3 separate regions of the Homo sapiens genome follow, and regions 2 and 3 are each reported to be linked to region 1. The links are microRNA targets in miRTarBase. Many come from high-throughput screens and were not tested one by one. Region 1 holds a microRNA gene; each other region holds the end of a gene's coding sequence.
Evidence for each region. Region 1 holds the annotated microRNA hsa-miR-6747-3p (UCCUGCCUUCCUCUGCACCAG, at 1,457-1,477, shown strand). A microRNA usually pairs through its seed, bases 2 to 8, with sites in the 3' UTR of a target mRNA and lowers its output. Matches are read on the target gene's strand: a 7mer-m8 pairs with bases 2 to 8, a 7mer-A1 pairs with bases 2 to 7 and ends in A, and an 8mer does both.

Region 2: the mRNA of CREM is a reported target of hsa-miR-6747-3p. Seed matches in the 3' UTR shown: 8mer at 432-439.
Region 3: miRTarBase lists ZDHHC15 as a target of hsa-miR-6747-3p. The part of its 3' UTR that is shown has no 7-base or 8-base seed match.

What each region holds. Positions count from the first base shown.
Region 1 is chr11:62,565,347-62,568,487 of GRCh38, reverse strand. MIR6747 (microRNA 6747) reads left to right here and starts at 1,417; the gene lies at 1,417-1,477. It overlaps EEF1G (eukaryotic translation elongation factor 1 gamma), which reads left to right. Exons shown (of 10, transcript NM_001404.5): 6 at 960-1,089; 7 at 1,478-1,682.
Region 2 is chr10:35,211,002-35,214,142 of GRCh38, forward strand. It overlaps CREM (cAMP responsive element modulator), which reads left to right. Exons shown (of 8, transcript NM_183011.2): 8 at 253-1,952. The coding sequence ends at 397. Among named protein-coding and RNA genes, the nearest start is that of LINC02634, 32 kb to the right of the region's middle. RefSeq lists an enhancer at 286-845.
Region 3 is chrX:75,376,478-75,379,618 of GRCh38, reverse strand. It overlaps ZDHHC15 (zDHHC palmitoyltransferase 15), which reads left to right. Exons shown (of 12, transcript NM_144969.3): 11 at 421-499. The coding sequence ends at 467. Among named protein-coding and RNA genes, the nearest start is that of UPRT, 100 kb to the right of the region's middle.

The DNA of each region.
Region 1 (3,141 bases):
AGGGCAGGAGGATTGCTTGAGCATGCGAGTTCAAGATAAGCCTGGGCAACATAGTGAGACCCCATCTCTATTAAAATTTTTTTTTTTTTTTTTTTTTTTTGAGACAGAGTCTCACTCTGTCACCCAAGCTGGAGTGCAGTGGCGTGATCTCGGTTCACTGCAACCTCCACCTCCTGGGTTTAAGTGAGTCTCCTGCCTCAGCCTCTGGAGTAGCTGGGACTACAGGCACGTGCCACCACGCCCAGCTAATTTTTTTTTTTTTGAGACAGAGTCACTCTGTCACCCAGGCTGGAATGCAGTGCCGCGATCTCCGCTCACTGCAAGCTCCGCCTCCCGGGTTCACGCCATTCTCCTGCCTTAGCGTCCCGAGTAGCTGGGACTACAGCTGCCCGCCATCACGCCCAGCTAATTTTTTTATTTTTAGGAGAGATGGGGGTTCACCGTGTTAGCCAGGATGGTCTCGATCTCCTGACCTCGTGATCCGCCCGCCTCGGAGATCCCAGCAGTTTGGGAGGCCGAGGTGGGCGGATCACTTGAGGTCAGAGTTCGAGAACAGCCTGGCCAACAGGGCGAAACCCCATCTCTACTAAAAGTACAAAAATTAGCTGGGTGTGGTGGCAGGCACCTGTAGTCCCAGCTACTCAGAAGGCTAAGGCATGGGAGGCTGAGGCACGAGAATCACTTGAACCCAGGAGATGGAGGCTGCAGTGAGCTGAGATCACGCCATTGCACCCCAGCCTGAGCGATAGAGTGAGACTCTGTCTCAAAAAAAAAAAAAATTGAAAAAAATGAAGAAATGGGAAGTAATCCAGGGAAGGATGATGTTGTATGAAGCTATTGTCTATAGGGTTTGAAAAGAAGGTGAGCACTGGGACTTAGGTAGAGCAAGGACTCTTGCTGTGAACAGAACTCTTCAGGGCCTTTCCACTGACTTTGTTTACACCCTTATGTCCTGGCAGGTTCTAGAGCCTTCTTTCCGCCAGGCCTTTCCCAATACCAACCGCTGGTTCCTCACCTGCATTAACCAGCCCCAGTTCCGGGCTGTCTTGGGCGAAGTGAAACTGTGTGAGAAGATGGCCCAGTTTGATGGTGAGTCTGAGGAGACTGGGAGGCATATGGCCAGGATCAGGGTCTGGTTTGCTCTGCATCAACCCCTTGATTTCCTGTCTTGCTTTTGGGTTATGGGGACCTGCAGAATGTAGGGTGTCAATGTGGTAGCTAATATTATGTGCAGTTTCGTGTACACTCATACCCTGACTAATTTGTATTACTATATAGATTTGCGATATAAAGTATTTGTTGCTGAGTGTGTTGTTGCTGGAGGACACACAGTGAACTGATGAGCAGTCTGGGGCCTAAGTTCCTTACTTGTCCCATTCGTCAGTTTCCTCTGTTACCTTGCTTGCTCTGTGTGGTTTTGGAGGGGTGTGGAAAGAGGCAGAACATTCGTTCACTTTCCTGCCTTCCTCTGCACCAGCTAAAAAGTTTGCAGAGACCCAACCTAAAAAGGACACACCACGGAAAGAGAAGGGTTCACGGGAAGAGAAGCAGAAGCCCCAGGCTGAGCGGAAGGAGGAGAAAAAGGCGGCTGCCCCTGCTCCTGAGGAGGAGATGGATGAATGTGAGCAGGCGCTGGCTGCTGAGCCCAAGGCCAAGGACCCCTTCGCTCACCTGCCCAAGAGGTAAGGATATTGGAGGGTGGAGGGTGTGGGACCAAAGAAGGCCTGTTCTCACCTCTGTATGTCCCCCCTCACACACAGCTAGAGCCAGAATTTTAGGTTGTCCATATAAAGTTAAAGGTATATTTTAGTTGCAAATAAAGCAGCTTTCTGGCTGATAATCAGGAATTGGGCAAATTTTGATTGTGGAGAGCAAGTTTCAAGTACAGCCAGTACTGGGGAAGATTGAACTCCTATTCCAACAAAGACAGGAACAGATTTTGATATAGTGGTAAGTTGGTTTTGAGCAAGCTCATTTGACCATTTGAGAGCTCTGAGAACAAATACAGGGAGAGGCGTGGGGAGGAAGAAAGTGCAGAGAGCCTTGCGGTGCGCCACGCGCCCGGCTGTGCGGAGATAGTGGATGCCAGAGCAGGGTCCTTTGAATTGTTTTGTTTTCTGTTTTGCTGAATCAGACTGTACAAAAATTGCTCACTAAGAAAAAGGATGAAGATCATAGCTAAGTAGTGTCTGTCTAGTTCATTGTTCCACAACCGAGTAAAGTCCCCAAGTAGAAGAAAGTAGGTGTCCTCTGTATCCCTTTTTCAGTTAAAGGTAGGGCTTCTTGGAAGAAATAATATAGTAAAAACGAGATTTTTGGCATGAAAAATGTAGGACGCTGAGTGCTTGCCCAGTTCTCTGGGATGGAGTCTTTCTTCCATCACTGCTCCAAGTCATTTTATTGGGAGTTCAAGCAGTTTGAGAAATATATATTCTGTGGTCACTTTGCTTTGGAACTCCTCTTTCTCTGTACTTTTTCCTCCCACTCACCCTGTCATTTCCAAAGCCGTTCATCTTTTTACTGCTTGGTCTGCTAGGGTTTACATTTCACCCTCTCCCATCTTGTAATGGCTTGGATACCGGGTGAACCAGCCTAAAGGAGCACCCACTGGTAGGGACACAGTAGCTGTGCATAGAATTGTGAATTACAAGCATTGCACTAATAGATGGGAGCAACTTGGGGTATAGCTGAAAGTTCTTACTCCCGGGTATTTTGTACAAGACCAGGAAGGCTCCATCCAGACACAGGCACTCTTTAAAGATGTATTTTTTGAACTAGTGATTTGCCTTGAATTTAGCACAGGTGCAGGTCAAGAGTGAGCAGGATTTTTGGTGTGTGTAAATAGGTCATGATAATTAACCCAAATTACATATTGTGTTGTAACTCAGACGTTGTTAATTATTAGCTAGAGATTTTCACATATAGTAGGTCAGTACTCTGGGCAGGAAATAAATGAGGCAGTAGTAAACTTAAAATCTTTATTTAATAAACTTTACATTTTCTTAACATGGTTTTGGGAATGTTTATTAATGTCTATTTATTGGGTTACCATGATGCCCTACAGGGCTGCCAGAAATGCTTTCCCCAAGGTTTTTTTTTTTGGAAACAGGGTTTTACTTTGTTGTCCAATCTGGAGTGCAG
Region 2 (3,141 bases), not on the chromosome of region 1:
ACCAGTGGAATGTGTGCCCTAAGAAAACACCATTTGTGATGAATGCTGGGCGAACTGTGTTCTCAAATCATTCCTGTTGTCTAATGGTTATCTTACAAAAAGCATGTGCCTGGTTATGTTTGTTATGTGGCTTTGTACAGTCCTTACCTAGGATCGATTGGCTGTTGAGTTCGGGGGGCAGAAGTGCACTGACCCACTGTGGATTGTGTTGGAAGGCTGTTCCTGTAGTCATTTGCCTTGTGTTGCTTCCAGGGAAGCTGCCCGGGAGTGTCGCAGGAAGAAGAAAGAATATGTCAAATGTCTTGAAAATCGTGTGGCTGTGCTTGAAAACCAAAACAAGACTCTCATTGAGGAACTCAAGGCCCTCAAAGATCTTTATTGCCATAAAGTAGAGTAACTGTCTTTGACTTGGACCTTGTTTACTCTAATCAAGGCAGGAGATGCAGCAGTCCTACTTATTGCCATGTGGACTTGTGGGAAGGACACGTGTGACCCTTAAGAATCCAGTTTGGATTAGTGTTTGAAATTGAATTGGGAATGTTGTTCCAGGATGTGGAATGCAGCCGTGATCACACTTACCGAGCTTACTTTGATCTGTTTGTCAATAGCATGCAAAAAATGCTTTGTTTGCCCTTTGCTTCTGCTTTTTTTCAGGGAAGCTGCCAAAGAATGTCGACGTCGAAAGAAAGAATATGTAAAATGTCTGGAGAGCCGAGTTGCAGTGCTGGAAGTCCAGAACAAGAAGCTTATAGAGGAACTTGAAACCTTGAAAGACATTTGTTCTCCCAAAACAGATTACTAGAAATATTTAACTATGAACTGAAGGCAGCATGTATAGTTGCTTTTGAAGGAATACAATATATAGCTGGCAAGAATGGTGGCTTCTTTTCTTTGTATCATTCATCTTCTTCTTTAATCACTTAACATTCCTAAAATGCTTCACTGTACGTAGTTAAGTCGTAGCTATAACTTCAAATTTTTTAAAAGAGACAAACTGTAAAAAATGTGTGTATTCTTAAAATGCAATATTTGTAAGGCTTGTTCCAATGCCACATACTTGCAGCTCCCATTCTATGTGTCATCAATAGTGTCCTATGCAATAAAATTATTTGCAGGTCTTTAAATCATTTTAGGAAAGGATGATCAAAAATAATGCATCCAGCAGTACAATAAAAGTAAACCACAAAAAAATACCTCAGGAAAGAATAGAAAGAAAGTCTATCTAATGACATGCCTATATGAGAAGAATAGCCTAGATATGAATATATGGCATTTGCAGATTTTTATATTAGTTGCTTTGTTAAAAAAAAAAAGATTGTATTGCTGTCCTTGAATGCCATAGTCAAAGAGAGTTTTTAATAGAACCATGTTGGTTGCACTTTGTAGTGTTTGGTGCTCATTTAAATATCTGAACATTTACTACAGTTTTTAACTCTACTGTGTAATATAAAAGATCTTGCAGAAGTTCTTAGTGTTGGTTTAATATTACCTAATGAAAGTGATGACATATTTTTTATATCTGGAATGAGCCTGTTGGGATCGCATTGCATACCTTCGGGGTACAAGTCAGTTTCTACACTGGGTGCTGATCCTTGCACGCGCCCTTTCTACCATCTCACGGTGGGGATGGCCGCAGGGCTGTGCACCCAGAAGAAGATGGCTGTTAGCGTTTCGGCCTTCATAATGGCCTGAGACTTTCTTTCTGTAGGTGGTCTGGAGCTGTCCGGCTGGTGGCCCCCTATTTTGCCATTTAGCGAACAACCACAGGAATTTTAAAAACAAAAACATCCCAAGATTTTTTCATTTCAAAATGCTTCAAAGTCCACATTAGATCAGATACTCCGCTGTCGGCACATTCAGCTGAGGTTCATTACAATCGAGACTGCAATGTGATCTATGTTTCATCTTGTTTTTATAATAAAAAGCTTCAGGGAACAAGCCCAAAGCCCTCACCACAGGATGCTGTGTCCCCTCATTCCCTGACGTTTCTTGATTGTCTGCCGCGTGGTGGACTCTGCTGTGTTTCCTGCTGTGACTTCTGCTTTAAGGATGTCCCTGCCCCACCCCCCAGTTTCAAGAGTGGATCTGATCAGTGTGTGGTGGGAGACAGAAAATTGGGAGCTGGTTTGCGGAGCATCCAGCTGCTGCTTTCCCTGTACCACTGGAATTCTTTCCCTTATCTGTCACTCCCAGTAAGTAGGGCATGTCATTGTTGGCTTTCTTTAAAAATATTTATTCTTCCTTCAGAGTCGGAGCTCTGAATTTCTTTTTTCTTTTTTTCTTTTAAGACAGAGTCTTGGTTTGTCACTCAGGCTGGAGTGCAGTGGCGTGATCTCAACTCACCACAACCTCCGCCTCCCGGGTTCAAACAATTCTTCTGCCTCAGCCTCCCGAGTAGCTGAGATTACAGGCGTACACCACTACACCCAGCTGATTTTTCTATTTTTAGTAGAGATGAGGTTTCACCATGTTGGCCAGGCTAGGCTCGAACTCCTGGCCTCAAGTAATCCACCTGCCTTGGCCTCCCAAAGTGCTGGGATTACAGGTGCGAGCCACCGCACCCGGCCTAAATTTCTTTTATCTCAATTTTTGTCTTCTCTTCTACAGAGAAGATGAGGAAAGAAGTCAAGGAAGAAAAAGGAAAGGAAAACTCCAGGTTTCAGGTGCAGGACAGTAGGACCTTGCATTCACTCATCTGCCCAGTCAGTTGCTGTGCGCCAGTGGTGTGGCTGGGGTGGGTGGACACACAGAGGGGACACGAGGATCAGCAGGCAAGATGTACAAAGTTGGAGACGATGCACGCTACATGTTAGAATTCTAGAAAGATGCAGCTGGGGGTTAAACAGGAGACTTTATGTGGGAAGTGGATTTTGAACTGGGCCTTGAAGTGATTGACAGTGCTGGGGCGTGGGGTGGGTACTTCGGGAATACAGAGCACACACACTGCTCCAAGGAGCTTGGGTCTGGAGGACAGAGGGAGGCCAAGTGAGTTCTCACCCAAGAGCTAGTTTCATTTAAAAATCAGGGGAAGACAGAAGCAATGTGTGCGCATGCCTGTGTGTACTCTAGTCTGCAAAATAGGTTATATTATTTTAGAGGAAAGGGACTATCCAATTACTTGGGACCACCAGCAACAGAAGC
Region 3 (3,141 bases), not on the chromosome of region 1:
TAGATACCTCATTCCTTTTTTAGAAACACACCATCACCTAAAGTACTGTAATAGCTAACTCAATTATGTCCGGTGGAATAACAGCAAAACAGGGTAATTTTGTGGGTAGCAAGATGCAAAACATTCCATTAAAGTCAGATTATGTTGAGCTGTCATCATAGCTATTTAAGTCAAATACCAGCCAGTATTATAGATCAGATAATGCTGATAAATAATCTTAGTTCATAGTATAGCAGGCTGACTATTCTTAGAATGTGAATGTCTGGTTACAAATGCTTCTGTGTTACACATCAGTCTTTAGAGGTTTGCAGGTATCTGTTGCCTGCAGAGATTGAACAAGAAGGAAAACTGCCAGTGAATGAATACCCACCCATATAAGGCACGGGGACATTTGATCATCTTCACGTTTCAACCTTGCAGATTATCCAGAAGGCTCATCATCTCTTGCTGTGGAAACGGAAACATAGCAGTTTTCACATTTCCTGCATCTCTCAGACAGGTCAGTATTCTGAGGGAGACACATACAGTGGCACCTGGACTGCTAAGAAGGCGGCTTGGGAGAAGAACTAGAAAAGAAATAAGTTCTTATCCTGGGTGAAAAAGATTTTAAATTCTTCACTCTTGTAATGCATGCATAAGCAGAAGTTCTATACATAATTTCCCTTGGCAGTGTGCTGAAAAAAAAGATGCCCTTATTCCCTGCAAACTCACACTTATGTCACTTGTGCTGAAAAAAACTCCGGGGATCCAGACACCCAAACATTCCGTTAAGGTTATTTACTCTCATACTGTGAATTATAAGCCTCCTCCTGTTTCATTCCAGGTCTCTGAAATGGTACAGATTACAAATAGCTTTCTTTTGCCTGACTCCATTATGTCAGTTAATAACCTAGTCTTCCCCACTAAGGGCAAAAAAGCATCCTTCCTACACTGTAACCCTCCTAAAATGCTATGAGTTTGTTAAGTAGTGGCAGACAACTTTACACATGGGATTCTCTTTGGCCTGGTGAAAAGCTCGACGACCTTCTTTTTGCAACACTCACAGGTATAAACCCAGTGTAATTAAATATTAAAAGAATGTTAGTAATAGAAATACCATAGAGCTTATAGCTCTGATCGGATGAAACTTCTAATCCTATTCTCATGAAAAAAGCTAGCAATTATTCAGAAGCTTACAATCTGTTCGTGGGTTCCCAGGTCTTCAGTTCTTTCCCTTACAGAAATTCTGCTGTGTACAAGTGTACATATTGTATAAAACTTTGTATATGCCAGCCACTTTGGTGTGTACTTGATATATATGATCTTATTTAATCCTCACATCAACTGTAAGATGAATGTTACTATTCCCATTTTACTTATGAGAAAACTGATATGCAGAGAGGTTAAATCACTTATCCAAGTCTGCATATGTAGTAAGTGGCCAACCTAGGGTTGTAACTCAGGTCTATCTGACCTCAAAGCATGCTATTTCCACCATGGCACTACATTTCAAAATCTGAGTTATTTGTGATGTGTCTTTATTTATTATCAAAGATTAAAAAAGGAGAGAACCAAGTCTGTTTCCTTATCCAAAGCCCTGATGAAATGTTTGATGTTTAGGTAAGACAACTTATATGATAGTAATATCTAGATTTGGGTTATCTGTGGTGCTAATCTGTCTATTTTATTTTAGTATTTTCCTAGGGGAAACACTACTACTTTGGCATGGTAACAGATGTTAAAGGGAAGAAAAATTATCTGGTAAATAAATTTATAAAACCCTATATAAGCAAAATTAGAAAGTTGGCTTTAGTGTAGGAATTCTCAGGGGTTTTACTACACTATTGAGTTTTGTGGCTCACCAAAAGGAGGTTGTAGTGGTCCCTTAAATTTTATTTAACTGTTGGATCCTTTCTTTTTTGTGCCTATCATGGAACCTAGTATTTCGTGCAATACTTATCAGGACCATTAATATGCTAAGGAACTTTGAAATGCATTTTTTATATACTTCCCTAGATAAGCAAAATTGCCTTCAAGCAATGCCTTATGCCTTTTACAGGGCACTCTGTCCAAATATATTAATAAAGTGATTCATTTTGTGGAAATCACAAACTCATATATACATATATATATATTTTTTTTTTGAGATGGAGTCTCACTCTGTTGCCCAGGTTGGAGTGCAGTGGAGTGATCTCGGCTCACTGCAACCTCCACCTCCCAGGTTCAAGTGATTCTTCTGCCTCAGAACCCAAGTAGCTGGGATTACAGGTGTGTGCCACCACGCCCGGCTGCTTTTTGTATTTTTGGTAGAGATGGGGTTTCTCCCTGTTGGCCAGGCTGGTGTCTAACTCCTGACCTCAAGTGATCTGCCCACCTCGGCCTCCCAAAGTGTTGGGATTAGCCACCGTGCCGGGCCTCATATTCTGATAATAATAGAAAAGTACTTGGGAACACAGGAGGGAAGAGTGGGAGAAACCTTTTAAAACTTATTAAGATATGAAGAATTGTTTAAACTGTATGTAGATAATTACTACAGTGATATTTGTAAAAAGCTCCAAACTGAAAACAACCTGAATGTCTATCAGTAGAAGAATGCATTAATACATTATATATGTCCAAGTAATTAGATATTTAATATATATTTCCCTTCATTTTCTTTTGAAGTTTTTTAAATAAAAAAGGATGAAAGAAAACATGAATCCCTTGTGTTTAAAATGTAGAATCAATGCTAATTTTTTCATTTTGCCTCTAAATTTTGTATATAAAAAATTATTGCCATAATTTTTACCCCAAAAATGTACTTATTCTAGATTATATTTTCTTCAAAATGAAAAGACAAACTTGAAAAATATTTGCAAACTATACAACACACAAAATTTAATATGCTTAATTTACAAAGCTCTTGCAAATCAGTAAACAAAAGAAAAACACAACAGTTAGAAAATGGGCAAAGCAACAAAAGAAAGCAATGAGGAAAGAACTCTCTATTCAATTAATGGTGCTGGGATAACTGGCTAGCCATATGCAGAAGACTGAAACTGGACCCTTACTTTTCTCCATATGCAAACATTAACTCAAGATGGATTAAAGACTTAAATGTAAGACTTCAAACTATAAAAATCCTAGAAGCAACCCTAGGAAATACCCTTCTCAACATTGGCC